Homo sapiens: one gene and its partner. The protein of the gene in region 1 interacts with the protein of each later gene in a pairwise test. Each region holds a gene or a part of one and is shown on either strand. Other genes may lie near its edges. The genes, in order: ELOVL7 and LRCH4.

Region 1 (10,355 bases):
GTCAGGCTGAGGTGGTCTCAGATGGAGATGAGGAATTTATTGGGAACTGGAATAAATAACACTATGCTTTAGAAAAAAGACTGGCAGCATTTTGCCCCTGCCCTAGAGATCTGTGAAACTTTTAACTTGAGAGAGATAATTTAGGGTATCTGGCAGAAGAAATTTCTAAGTGGCAAAGCATTCAAGAGGAAGGACCATAAAAGTTTGGAAAATTTGCAGCCTGATGATGCGATAGAAAAGAAAATACAATTTTCTAGGGTGAAATTCAAGCCTGCTGCAGAAATTTGCATAAGTAGCAGGAGCTGAATGTTAGTCACCAAGACAATGGGGAAAATGTCTCCAGAGTATGTCAGAGACCTTGGCAGCAGCCCCTCCCGTCACAGACCTGGAGGCCTAGGAGGAAAACATGGTTTTTGGGGCTGGGCCCAGGGCTCCCTGCTGTGTGCAGCCTAGGGACTTGATGCCCTGCATTCCAGCTGCTCCTGGAATGGCTAAAAAGGGCCAAGGTGCAGCTTGGGCCATGGCTTCAGAGGGTGCAGGCCCCAAGCTTTGGCAGCTTCTCCATGGTGTTGAGCCTGTGAATGCACAGAAGTCAAGAATTGAGGTTTGGGAACCTCTACCTAGATTTCAGAGGATGTATTGAAACTCCTGGATGTCCAGGCCGAAGTTTGCTGCAGAGGTAGAGCCCTCATGGAGAGCCTCTACTAGGTCAATGTGGAAGAGAAATGTGGGGTCAGACCCCAAACACCTAGTCCCCACTTGGGCAGTGCCTAGTGGAGCTGTGAGAAGAGGGCCACCATCCTCCAGACCCCAAAATGCTAGATCCATTGACAGCTTGCACTGTGCACCTGGAGAAGCCACAGACAGTCAGTTCCAGCCAGTGAAAGCAGCAGGAAAGGGGGCTGTACCCTGCAAAGCCACAGAGGCAGAGCTGCCCAAGGCCATGGGAGCCCACCTCTTGCACCAGTATGACCTAGATGTGAGACGTGGAGTCAAAGGTGATCATTGTGGAGCATTGAGATTTAATGACTGCCCTACTGGATTTTGGACTTGCATGGGGCCTGTAGCTCCTTTGTTTTGGCCAATTTCTGCCATTTGGAATGGGTATATTTATGCAGTGCCTGTATCCCCATTGTATCTGGAAAATAACTAACTTGCTTTTGATTTTACAGGCTCATAGGCAGAAGGGACTTGCCTTGTCTCAGATGAGACTTTGGATTTGGACTTTGAGTTAAAGCTGGAATGCATTAAGACTTTTGGGGATTGTTCGGAAGGCATGATTGTGTTTTGAAATGTGAGGACATGAGATTTGGGAGGGCCCAGGGACAGAATGATATGGTTTGACTGTATCCCCACCCAAATTTCATCTTGAATTATAGTTCCTATAATCCCCACATGTTATGGAGGGACCTAGTGGGAGATAAGTGAATCATGGGTACAGTTTCCCTGTGCTGTTCTCATGATTGTTTCTCACAAGAGCTGATGGTTTTATAATTGTCTGGCATTTCCCCTGCTGGCACTCATTCTCTCTCCTGCCACTTCATGAAGAGGTGCCTTCTGCTGTGATTGTAAGTTTCCTGACGTCTCCCAGGCCATGCAGAACTGTGAGTCAATTAAACCTCTTTCCTTGATAAATTACCCAGTCTCGGGTATTTCTTCATAGCAGTGCATGAGTGGACTAATACAATGATGTTCATGTATTTAAGGTTTGCACTACCCACTTATAGAAGAAATCTATCAAAGTTTGATCAGTTCTAATTTTTTCCCTTGGTCCCTGGTTCTGTGACAACTTTTATTTATGGAGACTTCCTTTGTGACATACAGACCCATAGCAAGCCTTCCTTGTGGTGGTTTTAATTGCACAAAACAACGAGACATCCTAGAAAGCTTGCCATTGTTAAAAGCAAGGAGGGGAACCAATAGAAGCAGTAAAAGATTTCAGTGATGTGTACCTGGGTAGCTGATTTCAAAGTTTTTCCTGATTTAGAACTGTGACAAATCTTAATATGAGAAAATACTTCCGAAATTATAGAACTTTATGTTTTGAAAAGTGTCTGTCATCAAACTTTTGTTTAATTTCTATTTTGTGCATGACACCTTGTTAAAATTATTCTGCTGAGAGCATCAGAGACGTCCTTTTGTTAAATGTAGTGGCATTTTTCTGTCCCCATTTTATTTCCCCTTTCTGCCACACTTAATGCTTTGACTCCTTCCGAAAATCCACTCTTCCCTGGCTTCAGGATATCTCACTTTTATGGTTTTCCCTCTACTTCTCTAGCTGTTCCTTTTTGGTTTTTATGTTTTTTCCTTCAGTAATTCCTTCTGTGAATGCTGAGTCCTCAGGATCCTGACTTCAGCACTTACTCTCCTTACTGTACCCACTTAGCCTAAGCCAATCTCACTGCTTTTATTGTTCATCATTTATGTGATGGCAACCCTCAATCTTATATCTCTGGCACAGATCTCTCTCCTAATTCTAGATCCATATATCCAGCTGCTTATGAAAGACTTCATATGAATGTTTTAAAGGCAGTCTAAGTGTAAGATGTTTTAAAACATAAGCCACCTCTGCTTGACCAATATTGCTCCTAATCCTGTGTTCCCAATCTAAGTGAATTTAAAGATCTGAGTATTTTTCTTTTAAAAATTTTTTTTTTAATTTTTGCGGGTAAATAGTAGGTGTATATATTTATGGAATACATAAGATGTTTTGATACAGGCATGCAATATGTAATAATTATATCATGTAAAATGGGGGTATCCATCCCCTCAAGCATTTATCCTTTGGGTTACAAATAATCCAATTATATTTTAAAACATACATTTAAATTATTATTGACTATAAGTCAGCCTGTCGTGCCACCAAATACTAGGTCTTATTCATTCTATTTTCTTTGTACCCATTAGCTATTCCCACCTCCCCCCCAACCCCCCTAGTACCCTTCCTAGCCTCTGGCAACCACCCTTCTACTCTATCTCCATGGACTTAATTGTTTTGATTCTTACATCCCACATATAAGTGAGAAATCTGAATATTTTTCTTAACATTTACCTATTTCCATTCCCTGTGTTTAACCAATTATAAATTTTTATATTTTCTTCTTCCTTACTGTATTTCAAAATAATCTCCTATTTATCTGTCACTATCACTACCTGTTTTTAAAATTTTTATTTTAGATTCAGGTGGTACACGTGCAAGTTTATAACTAGGCTATATTGTCTGATGCTGAGGTTTGGGCTTCTAGTGATTGCATCATGAATATAGTGAACATAGTACTTAAAAGTATGTTTTTCAGCCCTTGTCCCCTTCCTTCCCTCCCACATTTTGGATTCTTCAGTCTGTTGTTCCCATCTATACCTGCATGTACCCAAGACTTAGCTCCCACTTATAAGTGAGAACATGTAGCATTTGGTTTTGCATTTCTGTGTTCATTTGCTTAGGATAATGGTCTCCAACTACGTTCATGTTGCTGCAAAGGATATGATTTTGTTCTTTTTAATGACTGCATAGTACTCCACAGTATATATGTACCACATTTTCTTTATCCAATCCACCATTAATGGGCACCTAGGTTGATTACATGTCTTTGCTGTTATGAATAGTCCTGCAGTGAACATGCAAGTGTATGTATATTTTTGGCATTTTCCTTTCAGTATGTACCTAATAGTGGAATTGCTGGGTTGAATAATAGTTCTATTTGCAGTTTTTTGAGAAATCTCCAAACTGCTTTCCACAATGGCTGAACTAATTTGCATTTCCACCAACAGTGTATAAGCATTCCCTTTTCTCCACAGCCTCAACAACTTCTGTAATTATTTGACTTTTTAATGTTTGTTGGCCGCTTGTATGTCTTCTTTTGTGAAGTGTCTGTTCATGCTCTTTGCCCACTTTTTAATGAAGTTATTTATTTTTTCTTGTTGATTTAAGTTTCTTGTGGATTCTGGATATTAGTCCTGTTGGATGCATAGTTTGTGTTTTCTCCCAGTCCATAGGTTGTCTGTTTACTCTGTTAGTTTCTTTTGCTGTGCAAAAGCTCTTTAGTTTAATTAGGTCTTAATTGTTGATTTTTATTTGTGTTGCAATTGCTTTTGAGGACTTGGTCATAAAGCCTTTGCCAAGGCCAGTGTCCAGAAGAGTGTTTCCTAGGTTAGGTTTTCTCCTGGGATTTTTATAGTTTTAGGTCTTGCATTTAAGTCTTTAATCCATCTTAAGTTAATTTTTGTGTATGGTGGTAGGTAGTGGTCCAGTTTCAGTCTTCTGCATATGATTAGCCAGTTTTCCTAGCACCATCTATTGAATAGGGAGTCCTTTCCCCATTGCTTATTTTCATTGACTTTGTTGAATATCAGTTGGTTTTAGGTATGCTCCTTTATTTCTGGGTTTTCTGTTCAGTTCCATTGGCCGATGTGTCTATTTTTATATCAATACCATGCTGTTTTGGTTACTGTAGCCGTGTAGTACAGTTTGAAGTAAGATAATGTGATGCCTCCAGCTTTGTTCTTTTTGCTTAAGATTGCTTTGGCTATTTGGGCTCATTTTTGGTTTTCTATGAATTTGAGAATAGTTTTTTCTAATTTTGTAAAAAATAACATTGGTAATTTGATAGGAATAGCATTGAATCTTTAGATTGTTTTGAACAGTATGGACATCTAACAATGTTGATTTTTCTAATCCATGAGCATGGAATGTTTTTCCATTTGTATTTTCCATGATTTCTTTCAGCAGTGTTTTGTAATGCTCCTTGTACAGATCTTTTACTTCCTTGGTTAGATGTATTCCTATGTGTTTTATTTTTTGTGCTTGTGGTTATTGTAAATAGGATTGCATTCTTGATTTGGCTGTCAGCTTGAGGGTTGAAGAGCTGTTCCAAGCTCTTAAGGATAATGCTTTGGTGCATAGAAATGCTACTGATTTTCATACATTGATTTTGTATCCTGTAACTTTACTGAATTCATTTATCAAATATAAGAGTTTTGGCTGGGTGTGGTGGCTCATGCCTGTAATCCCAGCACTTTGGGAGGCCAACGTGGGCAGATCACGAGGTCAGGAGTTTGAGACCAGCCTGGCCAACAAGGTGAAACCCTGTCTCTACTAAAAATACAAAAATTAGCTGGGCATGGTGGCGGGCACCTGTAATCCCAGCTCCTCAGGAGACTGAGGCAGGAGATTCACTTGAACCCAGGAGGCAGAGGTTGCAGTGAACCAAGATCATGCCATTGCATTCCAGCCTGGGCGACAAGAGCAAGACTCCGTCTCAAAAAAAAAAAAAAAAAAGAGAGTTTTATGGTGGAGTTGGTAGGTTTTTCTAGGTAGAAGATCATATCATCAGCAAGCAGGGATAATTTTACTTCCTCTTTTCCAATTTTGATGCCTTTTATTTCTTTCTCTTGCCTGATTGCTCTGGCTAGGACTTCTAGTACTATGTTGAATAGGAGTGGGCATCCTTGTCTTGTTGCAGCTCTTAAAGATAATACTTCCAGCGTTTGCCCATTAGGTATGATGTTGGCTGTGGGTTTGTCATAGATGGCCCTTATTATTTGAGGTATGTTCCTTTAATGTCTAGTTTGTTGAGGGTTTTTATCATGAATAGATGTTAGATTTTATTGAAAACTTTTTCTGCATCTATTGGGATAATCATATGGTTTTTGTTTTTAATTCTGTTTATGTGGTGAGTCACATTTATTGACTTGAATATGTTGAACCAACTTTGCAGCTCAGGAATAAAGCCCACTTAATCGTGGTGAATTAACTTTTTGATGTGTTCCTGGATTCACCTGGCTAGTTTGTTGAGGATTTTTGCATCTATGTTCATGAGAGATATTGGCCTGTAGTTTTCTTTTTTGTCATTGTTGTTGTTGTTGGTGTGTCTTTGCCAGATTTTGGTGTCAGGATGATACTGGTTTCATAGAATGAGTTAGGGAGGAATCTCTCCTCCTCAATTTTTTGGAATAGTTTCAGTAGGATTGGTACTAGCTCTTCTTTGTATGTCTGACCACCTACTCTTCAGTCATTTAATTTATAAATTTATTTTAGTGTTCCACAGAACATTAGTTTCATAAGATGTTAAATAACATTCTACAAAAAAAATAGTGTTTTTTGGCCAAATACGTTTGGAGAATATGGCATACTGCCATTCCCATCGTGGCAATTCATGATGAACATGAAGCATTAAGAAATCCTGCAGTAATGCAACCTGTTTGTTTAACCCAGCATTCCAGTATTCCCCAATTCTTTGTGGAAAGTCTTTAAATAGCTTGTTTCCATGCATAGTTTGGAATATTCTTGTTTGTATAGGATATAAGATAAGAAACAAACTCATTTTTCTCCCAAGCAGTCAGTTTTCCTATCAACATTTGTTGAAGATCTCTTCCTTCCCTGCTTGTTTCTGGGACTTCCTTAATCATATATTAAATTCTTAAATGTCCTGGGATCTAGTCTGGAGCTGACTCTTGACTCTTTGGCTTTATTTCTTTATTTTTTTTGAGAGGGGCCTCTGCCAGTATTTTTGAGGGAGGCTTATTTGAATGCAGAATAATCACCCATGCACATCTGATAGTCAAATGTAAGCACTCCAGCACTAAAATTGAGGCCAAGTGAGTTATCAGTCATAGAGTCCTACTGAAGAAATTTTGAGTGGGAAGTCACACTTGCAGGGGTATTCAGAATTTGTCAGTGCTTGGCCACATCATTAGCAGCTTAAAAGAGCAAGAGCTACATTCTCCCTACCCTTCTTTTCCAATTGATAAAAGTGACAGTAGTTAGCATCCTGAGGTTAGTCATGGCATAATTTTGAGTCAGGTCCTTCTGGGAACTTGTCCTTACTTCCTTTCCTTCATAATACTCTAGCTTCATGAGGCCATTTAGTAAAATTAAACCTGAACTACTAGAAATTATAGACTTAATCACATTTCATCCTGAGTTGTAATTTTTTATTCATCCATCTCTGCTGGCCTGGAGCTGGCAGTAAGCAGATAAGTTTTTGTTTGCAATTGTGAGACCGTGCATTTTTTTTGCTCAGAATATCACAGTTGTTAGCTCACATGGACTCCAAAATCCCATACTTTAGCTACTTAGAGGATGTTCAGCCTTTCTATTCTGTGATCCTGTGATACAGTATATGTGGAAGTGTGCCAGTTTTCCTGGGGAAGGAAAAAAATTAAGCAGCAAACACAAACTTTTTTTAATATATAAAAGCATGTATGGATGGAAAAACTCCAAGATATTAATAATGACTATAGACACATGGTGGGATGTTGCTGGGTGTTCTCTCTTCCAGATAGCTTTGCACCCTGTGCTGGGCCCTGGAGAACGATCCATGAAGACTGTATCCTTGGGTTTGCTCCCCTGCCGTATGCTTTCTGGTTAGATTCAGCCAGTGGAGAGAGGGAGGAGAGTGGAGTTGGGGTATCTATTCCTCTGGCGCCATACTTACAGAATTGTCTTGGGCTGGCTGAATCCCTCAACTGACAGTCAAAACTTGTCTTAGCATACTCAGGATGCTTAAGAAATTATCATAGACTGGGTAGTTTATAAGCAGTGGAAATTTATTTCTCACATTCAGAGGGTGGAAGTCTGAGATCAGGGTGCCAGCACGGTCGGGTACTAGTGAGGACCCTCTTCCAGGTTGCAGACTGCCATCTTCTCATTGTATCCTTACATGGGGAAAGAGGGCAGGAGAGCTCCCTGGGGTGCCTTTTATAAGGGCACTAATACCATCATGCAGGCGATCAGTGCATAATACAGCTCCTCTCCCACTGTTTCTAGCCCCAGGATACTTCCTTATTCCTGTTGATTTCTTTTTCACCTTTCTAAAGATACTAGTGATCACTGCCCAAATAGCTCACAGTTAATAGTAGGATCTGGGTGCTCAGTTAAAGAAATGTTGGTTGCTGTTAGTTACCCCTTGGCTAAGCAGGTGTGTACTCACATATTGTTTTTCTCTTAGATCCAAGAGTTGAAGATTGGCTCCTCATGTCCTCGCCTCTGCCACAAACCATCCTCCTAGGATTCTATGTCTATTTTGTCACTTCCTTGGGACCAAAGCTCATGGAAAATCGCAAGCCCTTTGAACTCAAGAAAGCAATGATAACGTACAATTTTTTCATAGTACTCTTTTCTGTGTATATGTGTTATGAGGCAAGTGTCTTCAGTATTCCTAATGGGAGAATTTTGCCTGAGTTTTTCTGTTTATGTGTCATTATGTTTTCTGTTATAAGGGTAAACTTTGCAATTTAAGGAATTAAGAAACTGATCTCACTAGAGCAGGTATTTGCCAAAATAGTGTTAGGTATAGACCAAATAATAAACTCATTTGAGGATCTCAGTATAATCTGTCTCACAGATAATGAGAAAAACTAACATCTATTCCATGGATTTGTACATAATTGCCTTAATGGATTATTGAATTAATCCATAAATTTTAGTTTTGAGGAAACTCTTAAAGTAACATAGCTGGTAAGTGGAGGGCTGATATTTGAACCCAGGTCTGTCTGACATCAGAGTTCATCTTGACTCAGTAAAAAGTTGTCATCATCATGGTAGGCACCTTTGGTTTCTGGATACTCTGATGAACTATGGGATGGTAGACTGTTTTGGTTAGTTTAGCTGGGCTTTGTGGGGACAGAGAGCATAGACTCATATAAAGCAGTAGGTGAGGGAGCCTGTTCCTTAATTTTTTTCCCATTAACTCATTAATTCATTACTGTCCCTTAATTGTTAATAAGAGAGATGGGGCTCTTCCAGGACCCTAAAACAGATTCATGAATTCTCTCTCTTCCCCTGTGCTATTAACATGCCTCAGCCACCCCCATGTATGTTCTTTTCTGAGATTCCTTCCTTCTTTTCCAACTCTGGCTGGCTTCATTATCCTTTTTTATTAACTTCCTCTATAGCATAACTGGTGCTTAATCATAAGTAGGGCTCACGAGGGCCCAATATGGGCCCACTGACCTCTCCTGGCACCATAGTTTCTCCACATGCATTCTGACCTGACTCTTGCTACAGATCCATCATATCGATCACTTTAAATCTACTGTGGCTGGCCAGGTGTGGTGGCCTACACCTGTAATCCCAGCACTTTGGTAGGCTGAAGTAAGAGGATTGCTTGGGCCCAGGAGTTTGAGACCAGCCTGGACAACATAGGGAGACCTTGTGTCTACAAAAAATACAAAAAAATTAGCCAGGCGTGGCGGTGCACGCCCGTGGTCCCAGCTGCTTGGGAGGCTGAGGTGAGAGGATCACTTGAGCCTGGGAGGTCAAGGCTGCAATGAGCCGTGATCATGTCTAGTGACGGAGCAAGACCCTGTCTCAAAAAATAAAAATAAAAAAAATACTCTGGCCTTATTTCTCACAGTCCTCCCTATAGTCTGGACTCACTCTGCTGCTTTCCATTTCTTCTATTTTATTTTGAAAATTAACTCACAGGCCACTCTTAATGTCCCTTCAGGAGTATGAGCAACTGAGAGGAAAAGAGTGATAGAGATGGGAGCAAAGAAAACACAAGGTCCTAGCATGGTCTTAGGGGACAGCATGTTGTAGTAAGGTGTTAAGAACATACCTGGAAGCCAGGAGATTAGGAACTAGTTAGTTCTGCTTCTGCCACTGACTGGCTGCCTGAATTTTAGCAAGTTATTTAACCTCTCTGGGCCTCAGTTCTCTCGTTTTATAAAGATAGGATTGAACCAAATAGTCTCTCAGATCCCTCCTTGCTCTCATATTCTTAGGGTCTATGTCTGATTTGTCATTGAGTGTAATGTACCCAAATATATTTCTCAGGCTTGGAAAGAATCCAGTCATCGCCAGTCAGCTTTGATTCCTACTTGATCAATTACAATGTAAAAGAAGATTTTAAAATATCTGAATTTGAGAGTTTCTGACTCTCATTTACTGCTAATACTTGAGTTACTTATGTGTCAGTTTCAGGAACTACCTGCCAAATATAAATTATTACTTTCTGAATTCAGGGAATTCTTTTTTTTTTTTTTTTCACCAGAAAGGGTCTCGCTCTGTCACCCAAGCTGGAGTGCAGTGGCACGATCTTGGCTCACTGCAGCCTTGACCTCCCAGGCTCAAGTGATCCTCCCACCTCAGCCTCCCAAGTAGCTGAGACTACAGGCATGCGCCACTATGTCTAGCTAATTTTTTGTATTTTTTGTAGAGATGGTGTTTTGCCATGTTTCCCAGACTGCTCTCAAACTCCTAGACTCTAGTGATCCACCTGCCTGAGCCTCCCAAAGTGCTAGGATTACAGGTGTGACCCACTGGGCCTGGCCTAATTTTTCTTATTACTAGCCTGGAATATAGACATATATGTAAAAAGTTCCACAAGCTGTTGGAATGTTCTTAAACTTTCTAC
Region 2 (11,053 bases), on another chromosome or scaffold:
TCCAGTTCTTCATTCTTCTCACCTTCGGGCAGCGTACTGAGCTGGTTCCTCCGGACATTGAGGTCCCGCAGGGAAGAGAGGCCACACAGTTCCGAGGGCAGGGATTGGAGCTCGTTGCTGCTCACGTCCTGGTATCAGGAAGGCAGTGGGAAGGGGCCATGAGACCAGGCCCAGCAGAACCCACCCTCCCATCTCTGTCTTTGCTCCAGGCCCTCCCCAACCTCCCCCTAGAAGGTCCCGCTGCCTGGCTCAGGGGTCCCTTTCCTGGTCCCGTCCCCATCCTCACAAGCTGTCGCAGGCTTCCCAGGGTGCCGATGTCAGGGGGCAGGGCTCCCAGCTTGTTGTTGCTGACGATGAGGACCCTCAGGGGCAGCTGGCAGATGTAGGGTGGCAGCAGCGACAGCTGGTTTCGGCTGTGGAAGGGAGAAAGGCAGCGGACTGGCTCCCCAGGCATGGCATCCCAGCACTGCCATCCTCTCGGGGTCACTGGGTGGGTCACTCAGTAGTACTTGAGACTGAGAAGCACACGCTCCCACGTGGCCCTGGCTCGGCCTCCCTACCTGAGGTTGAGGTAGGTGAGGGCTGTGAGATTCCCCAAGGCTGGGTTCAGGCATCTCAGGCAATTGTGGTAGAGGCTCAGGCCCTCCAGGGACACCAGCTGGCACGCCGCCTCGGGCACCTCGGGAAACCGGTTCCGGGACAGGTCTGGGGAAAAGGAGGTGTCGGGGAGAGTTGCGGAAAGGCCCAGCCCGGACAGGACCTTCAGTCCCCCCAGAGCCGGCTGCCCACTCCCTCACCTCCACACCTAAAGATTCAAGGCCATCAATGTGGCCTCCCAGGAGAGATAACAAAGCCTTCTGCCAACGGGAGCACATTCCAGGCGTGACCAGAATGGCACAGGGAAGGCAAAGGCCTTAGCGTCACTGGGCTAGAGAAGCCTCAGACTTGGGGGTTGGGGAATGTCAATGGAGGGCTATCCTGGAGAGCAGCTGGAATCTCTAACTCCTGTGGTTCCTGTTCAGAGATGCCAGGTGAGGCGGAGGACCGAAGGTGAGAGGAGGGGTCAGTGCTCATGGGAAAACAGTAAGGCGAGGGGCTGGGGGGCTCCCGGAGGGAAGATGGGAAACCCCTGGGGCAAACCACAGGGAGTGCCCATCCCTCCTCGGGGCCCTTCTTCCCTACTCCAGTGTGTTTTCAACACGGGAAAAACCACAGGTCACTCTATCTTGGTTCTAGAGATAAAGTCCCCGACACCGGACGAGTTTTTCGCCAGCCCCAAGGACCAGCAAGCCAGGTCCAAAGAATCATAAAGTTACTGATTCCCAAGGGCTGGGAGGGAAGGGCAAGAAGACCTGGTTGGAGATGGGAGCTGGAGTTCCCAGGTCCCTCCCATCTGGGCTTCTCTGGCCCAGGGCAGGCATCCTTCCTACCCTCTGCTAGCCCTAGCAGCCCGGCTCTGCTTCCTCTCTTACTGACACAGACTTCAAGAGATCAGCAACTGTGTGAGCATCTCAGGCACGGCGAGGGTGGAGAGTGTGGGAGGGCCTGGGGTCTACAATCGCCCTCTTATCTGGAGCACTGCCTTGCTATGCGGAGGCTGGCAGCCTTGGGATTCCCTGTAGCACGGACCCACTAACGGCTTAGACCTGGAGAAGCCTGCCTTTCTGTTTCCTCGGCCCAGCCTGTCCTGGGAGGGGCCCAGGGCCCGCGAGGCGGAGTCCCAGGCCACAGACCTGGTGAGCTTCTCCAAGGGCCCTTCTCAGGGAAGGGCAGGCCAGCAAAAGCAAGCAGAGGAGAGAAGCCGGGTATATCCCCCAAGGAAATGAGTCTTGTGACAGGAAATGAAGTAGAAACAATCTGTCAGGTTCTGGCTCTGGTAGGCCCCGTGTTTACCAGGGTGGATGACAGCCTGATGCCCCGGGACCCCTTTCTCTTCCTCTCTGCCCAGCCCTGGTGCACAGACAGAAGCCCTGGCCTCAGAGATGACCGTTCTGGAGAGGGTGGGGGGATGGCATTTGCCCCTCCCAGCCTCGCCTCCACCTGCCCGCTTTCTCTGCAAATGTGTTTGTGTGTGTGCATGTGGACGAAGGGGGTGGAGACCGAGTTCTCAGAGTTCTGATGGGGTAGGCGGTGGCGGGGACAAAAGCTAGGAGCGGAAGGGAGCTCAGGCAGGAGGCAGGGCACTGGGGGCACAGGATGTGGTCTGGGAGAGAATGAGCTGCACTTCTCCTTTGCAAGATGGCCCCTCCCCGCCACCTCAGGATTCTTCCTACTATCACCCCAGGGAGCCTAGTCCAAGGGAGATCAGGGACCCAAGACTAGGCGACACGCAGCGAAGACACTCAGAAAGAGATGGGAGACGGGAGGGGAAGGCTCAAGGCAGTCCGGGCAGCAAGGCACTGATGCTTTTCGTCTGCTTGGAGGGCGAGGAGAGATGGAGGGCAGGGTATGGGCAACTGTATGTTTTTGTCACTTCCCCTTTCTGTCCCTGCTTGCGGAGAGGGGACAGAGGAGAGAATTCTGGACAAGAGGGACCCCACTTGGCCTAGAACCTGGGCCCTGTGTAGAGAGTGGGGCAGAGGAGGGTTCTTGGGAAGCTGGGATTTCCGACCCCCCCCCAAGCTCACAGGAGCACGGCTGCACCCTGAGCCGGAATGCTGGGGGAGGAGGGGGCCGGGGGCGGGAGCTGGGAGGGGCCGGGGAGCTCCGGGTAGTTTTCCCCAAGAGTCCACACAGGGAGAGACAGCCTAAGGAAGTAAAGAATAACATTTGGTCTTTGTCAAAAAACAACCAAGGGGGAGGGGAAGGGAACAGACAGTGAGTGTCACACAGCTGCTGAGGTCAATCTGGAGTGTGGGGTTAGGTGGGGGTGGGAGGGAACAGGGCTGTAAGGGGCAGGAATGGCTCCTGGAGCTCACTCATTCCCCATCTCAAGTGTTGCAGAGCAGGCGAGATCAGTGGGGAGGTTTCGACTGGTTCTCCCCAGAAGAGGGAAGAGGATGTGTGCCAGTGCCGGCCTGAGTGTTCCCAGGTGAGCAGGCACCTGCTTAGGGAGAAGTAAGCACTATCCTCCAGCTCTGGTCCCCCACCGTGCAGATGAGAGGAGGAAGAGGCCTGGGCTGGGGTGAGGCTTCGGGAATGCAGTCCTCCTCCCTGATCCTGATCCCCACCCCCAGCTGCCGGCCCAAGGTCATAGGCTGCCTCCTGAGTAGCTGAGGCTTGACTCACCTGTCACAGTTAAGTCCCCCACCCCCTACCATCCACAGACACCAGGGTGGAGGGTGCATGGTTGGACAGATCCTGCGGGTGGAGGCGTGGAAGGACAGTCTCTAGCTGGCCAGCACTCCCAGCTAGGAGATAAGATTTCCTTCCCTCCAGCAACGGCCTCAAGTCCCTCCCCCGGGGGAAAGCAGAAACTGAAATGGGAATTCTAAGATCCCTATGAGGTCACAGGCTCCACAGTGACCTCACAGGCTTAGGAAGGAGGAGGAGGAATCTCAGATAAGCCGGTTGGGGATAATAGGCGGAAGAGCTCAGGGAGAAAAGAGTGAGGGGAGGTAGAGATTTGTTTCTTTCCCATAGGCTGGAGAGCTGCGTGGACAGTGGAGAGGGCCAGGACCTTAGGGGGCGGGGTTGCGGCACAGAAAGCAGAAACCTCGGGCTTAGGGGCCAGTCACTGGGAAGGGGGTGCCCGGGGCTGCTCGGATCTCGGTGGGACGGGGGTTAAGAGGTGTAGATGAAGAGGGAGAGAAAGCAGTTATTAGAGGAGCTCGTGGGGACTGCTTCATAGACCGATTGGAGCTGAGGTTAAGAGATCATGTAAATAAGCCAACCAGGTGAGGGGCGGGACCATCCTACAGGTGCGCAGATATGCAAATAAAGAGAAAGGAGGAATCTCTCCCAACGCTCGGAGGCGCAGGGCGTTCTGTGCAAACGAGAAGCACGTTCATTGTCTAGGGGGTTCTCAAAGATGGGAGAGGATGGCTGCAGGTTTAGGGCAATCAGGAGGGGCAGCAACCCTGGCCGCCAGGTGAAGGGGCGGGCCCGACTCCCGGGCCGGGCGGGGCCCGGGGTGGGGCTATGCAAATGAGGGACCCGGTTGGGCCCGGGGCCCGGCTGCACTCACCAGCCTGGGTGATGTCTGACAGGTCGTAGCTACGGGCCGCGCCCCGGGGGAAGTGCTTCAAGCGCCGGTTAGACAGGTTCAGGGTCCCGGTGGCCACGGCCTCCTCTAGGGCCCGCTCTGCACTGCGTCTCCCCGGCAGACCTGGAGACCCGGGCACGGAGGTCGTGGCTGCCGCCTCCTCACCCCCGGCGGCGAGTGGAGCCGCTACGGCCGCCGCCATCCGCTCCCGGCGGCTCCCGCTGCCTGACTGACGGGACCGGCCGTCCCTCCTTCCCCCACCCCCTCCTTGGAGCCGCCGTAGTTGCCTCAAGGGGGAGGGAGCGGTGTCCGGGACCGGACGGACCAATCGTGGCCCCGAGACGCGTCAGAAGCGGCCAATCAGAACCCGTCAGTGGGGGTGGAGCTCCGGCGCCGGAGTCTGACGAGAGAAGGGAGGGGAACAAGGATAGAGCGCTCGCCAACGGCCGACGCTCCAGGCCGTCCCGCCCAGCGCAGCTGCACCCAATCACAATGCTCAGATCGGGAGGTGGAGCCAATCAGGTCCAACCAAGAGGAGGGGACACCGGCACTCCACTAGCAGGAAAACGGGCCGAGGGACCGCAAGCAGGGGGTGCCTAGTCCTCGTCCCCCAAAGACCAATCGTAAGCCAGATACAGGCGAGTGACTGTCAAGAAGGCCAATTAGAGCCTCCGAAGGGAATCTGGACCTGCCTCTTCTCTGAGGGACGGCTCTACCTACCAATAGCATGGGCGAGAAGGCGGTCCCTTTGCTAAGGAGGAGGCGGGTGAGCTAGAACTTTAAGACTGAGGTTAAGAATGAACGCGGAGCCCCTGGCCGGCCGGGAACGCAGTTCGCCGCTGCAGTGGCGAGTGCGAGCTGGACGTGTTAGGGGGCTAGCCGGCGTCCAGGGCTTGAGGGGATTCGGGCGACTGCTTGAGGCCAGTGCACTGGCGGTTGTCGCAGCTGAAGGGGCAGCGGGGGGACCTCCGACTGTGAAGCCTCTGGCAGGGGTCTCGGGACCCCCGGGCTGGGGGCGGGCGGGGGGCTTCCCAGAGCCTGGAGATGCCCAGCTCGAGGAGGGAGGGTGTAGGTGCAGCGTTGCACGGTCTGCCGTCTCACCCGAGGAGCTCCCCTGGACAGGAATGGAGAGGGGACCAGACCACGGGGTTTTAGAGGCTTAGAAAGGATCTCACCGCCTAGAACACGCCCTTGGTGCTACGAATGCAGAAACTGAGGCAGAGGGAAGTTGATGCGTTAGCAAGAGCGAACAGCAAGTTCCTGACAGCTGGCTTGCTCTAGAAACCAGGTCTCTGGATCCTCCACGCACAGCCCTTTCCCGCTCCCTCAGTTTTCACAGTGGATGTTTTCACTCCCTTCCTCTCTTCCTCCCTCCCTCCCTCTCCCTTCCGTTCCCTTCCTCTTTTTATTTTTTTATTTTTTGAGATGGAGTCTCGCTCAGTCGCCCAGGCTGGAGTGCAGTGGCGCGATCTCGGCTCACAGCAACCTCCACTGTCCGGGTTCAAGCAATTCTCCTGCCTCAGCCTCCCGAGTAGCTGGGACTACAGGCGCCCGCCACCACACCCGGCTAATTTTTTGTATTTTAGTAGAGACGGGGTTTCACCGTGTTGCCCAGGCTGGTCGCAAACTCAGGAGCTCAGGCAATATGCCCTCCTCGGCCTCCCAAAGTGCTGGCATTACAGGCGTGAGCCACCGCGCCCGGCCTTTTTTTTTTTTTTTTTAAGAAGGTCTGATTCTGTCGCCCAGGCTGGAGTGCAGTGGTGCAGTCATGGCTCACTGCAGCCTTGAATGCCTGGGCTCAAGTGATCCTCCTGCCTCAGCCTCCCAAGTAGCTGGGACCACGGGCGGCACCACTGCACCTGGCTAATTTATTTTCAATTTTTGTAGAGATGGGGTTTTGCTATGTTGCCCAGGCTGGTCTCAAACTTTTGACCTCAAGCGATCCTGCCTCTGCCTCCCAAAGTACTGGGATCACAGGCGTGAGCCACCGCACCCGGCCCACAGTGGACTTTTTCTTTCTTTTGAGACAGAGTCGCTCTGTTGCCCAGGCTGGAGTGCAGTGGCTTGATCGCAGCTCACTGCAGCCTCAACCTCCCACCTCAGCCTCCCGAGTAACTGGGACTACAAGCACGCACCACCATGCCAGCTAATTGTATTTTTTGTAGAGACAGGGTCCTACTATGTTGCCCAGGCTGATCTCAAACTCCTGGGCTCAAGCAATGCTCCCACCTCGGCCTCCCGAAGTGCTGGGATTATAAGCGTGAGCCACAAAGCCTGGCCCACAGTGGACTTTTTCTATTCACAACCTCTCGTTTGCCTCCTGGGGTGAAATGGAGTGGATAAAGGGGACCCAAATGCAAGAGGAATGGAAAATACCTTTCTGTCTACTTGGAGATCTTCCTTTCTAAGTGGCATGAGTCCCTAATGCAGTCCCCTCCCTATGTGGTAGGTTGCCCAGAAATAAGTCACTGAAGTTGCTTTCTCCTTAGTTCACATCTCAGAGGTTGATATTCCTGAGTAGTTGCTGAAGAATTAAAATTCCATCTCAGGCATCCCAGCCTAGCCATGGCTAGGCACCATACATAAGGGAATTTGGGTGGTCAGTCTGGTGCAGTCAATGAACGGATCTGTGACACTGTGTGGTGAGGGCTGGTGGTCTGGCAGGATGGGACTCCTTTGAGCCCCTGCAAGAGCCAGCCACTCCTTGGATTTATTGGTGTAGATCTGGCCTGAGTGGGACAGACACAACCCTGACCCCTGCTGTTTCTCCTGATAAATGTCACCCCACATAAGACAAAGCTAATATCAGAGACCCTGGGAGAAATCCTAAGCTTTCAGAGGAAATCCATCCCTTTCTCCCACCTTAATAGGTTGTCCTTTATACATGCAATGATGTTACTGTCCCTCAGGAAAGCAAAAGCAGTCTTCTTTTTTGTTTGTTTTTTTTGAAACTGGGTATCATTCTCGCCCGGGCTGGAGTGCAGTGGCACGATCATAGCTCACTGCTGCCTCAAACTGGGCTCAAGCAATCCTCCTGCCTCAGCCTCCTGTGTAGCTGGGACTACAGGGGTGCATCACCACGCCTGGGTAATTTTTAAGTTTTTTTTTTTTTTTAATAGACGCAGGGTCTATGTTGACCAGGCTGGTCTTGAAACCCATGGCCTCAAGCCATCCTTGCACCATGGCCACCCAAAAGTGCTGGGATTTCGGGCGTTAGCCACCGGCACCAGGCTGCAGTCTCCTTTTGGATGTGTTTTTTCACAAGTCTAAAGAGTTTGCTGAATCATTTGTGAGCTAAACGATTATTAGCACAGTCACCTCTCCATCTCACCTGTCAAACTGAGTTTATAGTTTTTTGAGTCTATACTCTTGAGCTACCAATCCCTAGAGGCCTTGGCCTGCTGAAATGTGAGGAATTCACTAGTGTTTCTCTACAGAGTTAGTGCTAAAAGGGCCTCAAATAGGAAAACTTCCTCCTGCTCCCTGAAATAAAGATGTCACCTACCAGTAATTCACACTTTATTTCTCCAGTAAAATGCATATCCCTTGAGCCATGTGATGGCTAGAACTGAGCTAGAACCCAGGAGCTGTCTAAGAGATGGGTCCTGGGCAAGATTAAAGGGAACAGGTCACAGTGGCCAAACAGTGAGGTCACAGAGAGGTTTGTTAGCCCCAGACTCCATGGGGGAGGGGCCTAGGAGGCAGAGGGGCCTCAGAGGTCCCCCAAGCCTAGGCTGGGGACATGGTGTGGGAAAGCCAGCAGGAACGGGGGGGCCAAGGGCCTAGGAGACAGGAGGGCAGGAGCAGGGAGGGGGCAATCAGGATGGTCAGGGGAAGCCAGAGACGGAAGCTGCAAAAATTCACCAGGCTGTGTGGACGGGAGGAGGGGCTCCGGGTGAGGGGGATTGGCCGCAGGAGATCGGGAGGAGTTATTTGGAGAAGTTAGGGATGGGTCTGGAGAGAGAGGGGAGGAAATAACTGTGCCCAGCTAGAGTCAGATGAGCCCCAAGGTAGGCGGAGAGAAGGGAAAAAAGGATGTGGGACCCTCATGGGACCCTATGCACCCCTTCTTGGGTAGGTGAAGAGAAGCTGCCCTTCTTGTGGCTCGGAGCTTGGGGTTGAAGAGAAGAGGGGGAAAGGAAATCCGATTTCCATCCAGTTGTTCCCCCCAGAGCTGGTGAGTCCTTGGGGAGGGGGATTGAGAATAATAGGATTGGGGGCCAGATCACCGAGGGGCCACCAAAGACTCCCCGCTTCTTCCCTCCTCCCTCCCAGGTGGAGCATATCATCTCATTCCTCCCAGTCAGAGACCTTGTTGCCCTCGGCCAGACCTGCCGCTACTTCCACGAAGTGTGCGATGGGGAAGGCGTGTGGAGACGCATCTGTCGCAGACTCAGTCCGCGCCTCCAAGATCAGGGTTCTGGAGTCCGGCCCTGGAAGAGAGCTGCCATTCTGAACTGTACACCTTCCCCAGAACCTCCCGTTCTCCTTGCCTCTGTCCCGCCTTAGCCTTCCTGCTCTCTAAAGTCCCCTGATGACCCCCACACTCCCAACAGTGCTTCCAGGGCCCCTTTCTCCGGAAGAAACGGGTCCAGTTCAAACATTCTCCCTTGAGTACTTCCTCCAAGTCTTCGGAATCCACCCACAGCCCCCGTTAGCGGCCTCCCTGCCAAGTCTCCCTCTGTACACAGACACTTCCCGCTTTTTCCCTAGAGGCATCCCTCACTCCCCAAACCTGGAGTTTTCCCTCCTCTAACCCAAGGCTTCTGAACTCACTGTTGATATTCTGGGCAAAATAATTCCTTGATGTGGGGAGCTGTCCTCTGCATGGTGGGATGTTTAAGCAGCAACCCTGGCCTCCACCCACCAGATGGCCAGCAGCATCCCCCTTAATTGTGACAACCAATGCCCTTGAAGGACAAAATCACCCCTAGCCTGAGAACCATGCCATAAACCCTCTTCCCCTCCAGGGATCCCCCAGGGTGTACTTCTTACACTCACTGGGAGATTAAAAGAGAAGGGGGACCCAGAAAACAGATCCAAAGCTAGGGGTGAGGGAGGATGACCGGCCTTCATCAATCATTCCTTTTCACTCCTGTTTCTGTCTCTTCTCTTTTCTTTCTTTTTCTTTGATTTTTTTTTTTTTTTTTTTTTTTTGAGACAGGGTCTTGCTCTGTCACCCAGGCTGGAGCACAGTGGTGCAATCTTGGCTCAATGCAACCTCCACCTCCCGGGTTCAAGTATTCTCGTGCCTCAGCCTCCTGAGTAGCTGGGATTACAGGCTCCCGCCACCACACCCGGATAATTTTTGTATTTTTAGTAGAGATGGGGTTTTGCCACGTTGCCCAGGCTGGTCTCAAACTCCTGGGCTCCCAAAGTGCTGGGATTACAGGCGTGCAAAAATTCACTGAGCTGTGAGGATGGGAGGAGGGGCTCAGGGTGAGGGGGGTGGATGCCGCACGCAGCCTCTGTGTCTTTATTCTTAGAGTTTTCCTCAACATCACTGATGCAAGGTTGCACCAAAGAACTGCTCACTAAGAAGCAAATGTTTGACCCTGGGCTGAGGTGGGGTGGAGACTAAAGTTCACATGTCGAGTATAATCTAAGCTTATTTTCCACATCTCCTTCATAAGGGGTCTGTTTGTTCCCCTGTCCTGGGGATGGGGAGGAACTACAAACCAGCGTGTCTAAGAAATCTACCCAAGCTCCAACTCATCTCCCTCGTGTCATCTCATCCCTTGAACCTTCCATCTCCTTCCTTCCTCCAGACACGAAGGGCCTGTATTTCCAGGCATTTGGAGGCCGCCGCCGATGTCTCAGCAAGAGCGTGGCCCCCTTGCTAGCCCACGGCTACCGCCGCTTCTTGCCCACCAAGGATCACGTCTTCATTCTTGACTACGTGGGGACCCTCTTCTTCCTCAAAAATGCCCTGGTCTCCACCCTCGGCCAGATGCAGTGGAAGCGGGCCTGTCGCTATGTTGTGTTGTGTCGTGGAGCCAAGGATGTGAGTAGCAGAACCCTGGCAGCTGAGAGCCCACCTGTATTAGTCCATTTTCACACTGCTATAAAGACGTACCAGAGGCCGGGTGCAGTGGCTTACACCTGTAATCCTAGCACTTTGGGAGGCTGAGGCAGGCGGATCAGCTGAGACCAGGAGTTCGAGACCAGCCTGGCCAAATGGCGAAACCCGTCTCTACTAAAAATACAAAAATTAGCTGGGTGTGGTGGTGGGTGCCTATAATTCCAGCTACTTGGGAGGCTGAGGCAGGAGAATTGCTTGAACTTGGGAGGCAGAGGCTGCAGTGAGCTGAGATCGCACCCTTGCACTCCAGCCTGGGCAACAAGAGGGAGACTCCGTCTCGAAAAAAAAAGACATACCTGAGACCGGGTAATTTATAAGGCAAAGAGGTTTAATTGACTCATAGTTCCACATGACTGGGGAGGCCTCAGGAAACTTACAATCATGGCAGAAGGGAAAGAGGCACGTCTTACATGGCAGCAGGCGAGAGCACACAAGCAAGAGCAGGGAAAACTGCCTTATAAATCCGTCAGACCTCGTGAGAACCCACTATCACGAAAACAACATGGGGGAAATTGCCCCCGTGAGCCAATCACCTCCCACTGGGTATTACAATTCGAGATGAGATTTGGGTGGGGGCACAGAGCCTAACCATATCACCACCTCTCTTTTGAGGACCCAGGCCCCCATCAGTCTTGAGGTGTCTTTCCTATGACTTCTGCCCTCCCACATAGGAACCTGAAATCAAGGGCTCATTTCCCAACTCTGGACCCAAGCATTTCACTTCCCACCCCAGGATCCAGCTGCCCCAGCCCCATCCCATTTTGAAACTCTAGATCCCAGACGCCCTCATCTTTTCCCCCAGTTTGCCTCGGACCCAAGGTGTGACA

What was found.
Region 2: the proteins of ELOVL7 (region 1) and LRCH4 interact in binary tests that used the Homo sapiens proteins (3 or more experiments, as listed by UniProt).

Annotation. Positions count from the first base shown.
Region 1 is NC_000005.10:60,769,685-60,780,039, reverse strand, and holds part of ELOVL7 (very long chain fatty acid elongase 7), read left to right. Parts: intron 1-7,946; coding exon 7,947-8,137; intron 8,138-10,355. UniProt on the Homo sapiens protein: Catalyzes the first and rate-limiting reaction of the four reactions that constitute the long-chain fatty acids elongation cycle.
Region 2 is NC_000007.14:100,581,755-100,592,807, forward strand, and holds the start of LRCH4 (leucine-rich repeat and calponin homology domain-containing protein 4), read right to left. Parts: upstream 4,376-11,053; 5' UTR 4,347-4,375; coding exon 4,127-4,346; intron 706-4,126; coding exon 561-705; intron 414-560; coding exon 287-413; intron 129-286; coding exon 23-128; intron 1-22. Other genes in the region: FBXO24 (F-box only protein 24), read left to right, coding at 7,887-8,039, 8,223-8,321, 8,420-8,603, 9,913-10,148, 11,029-11,053. UniProt on the Homo sapiens protein: Accessory protein that regulates signaling by multiple TLRs, acting as a broad-spanning regulator of the innate immune response. In macrophages, binds LPS and promotes proper docking of LPS in lipid raft membrane. May be required for lipid raft maintenance.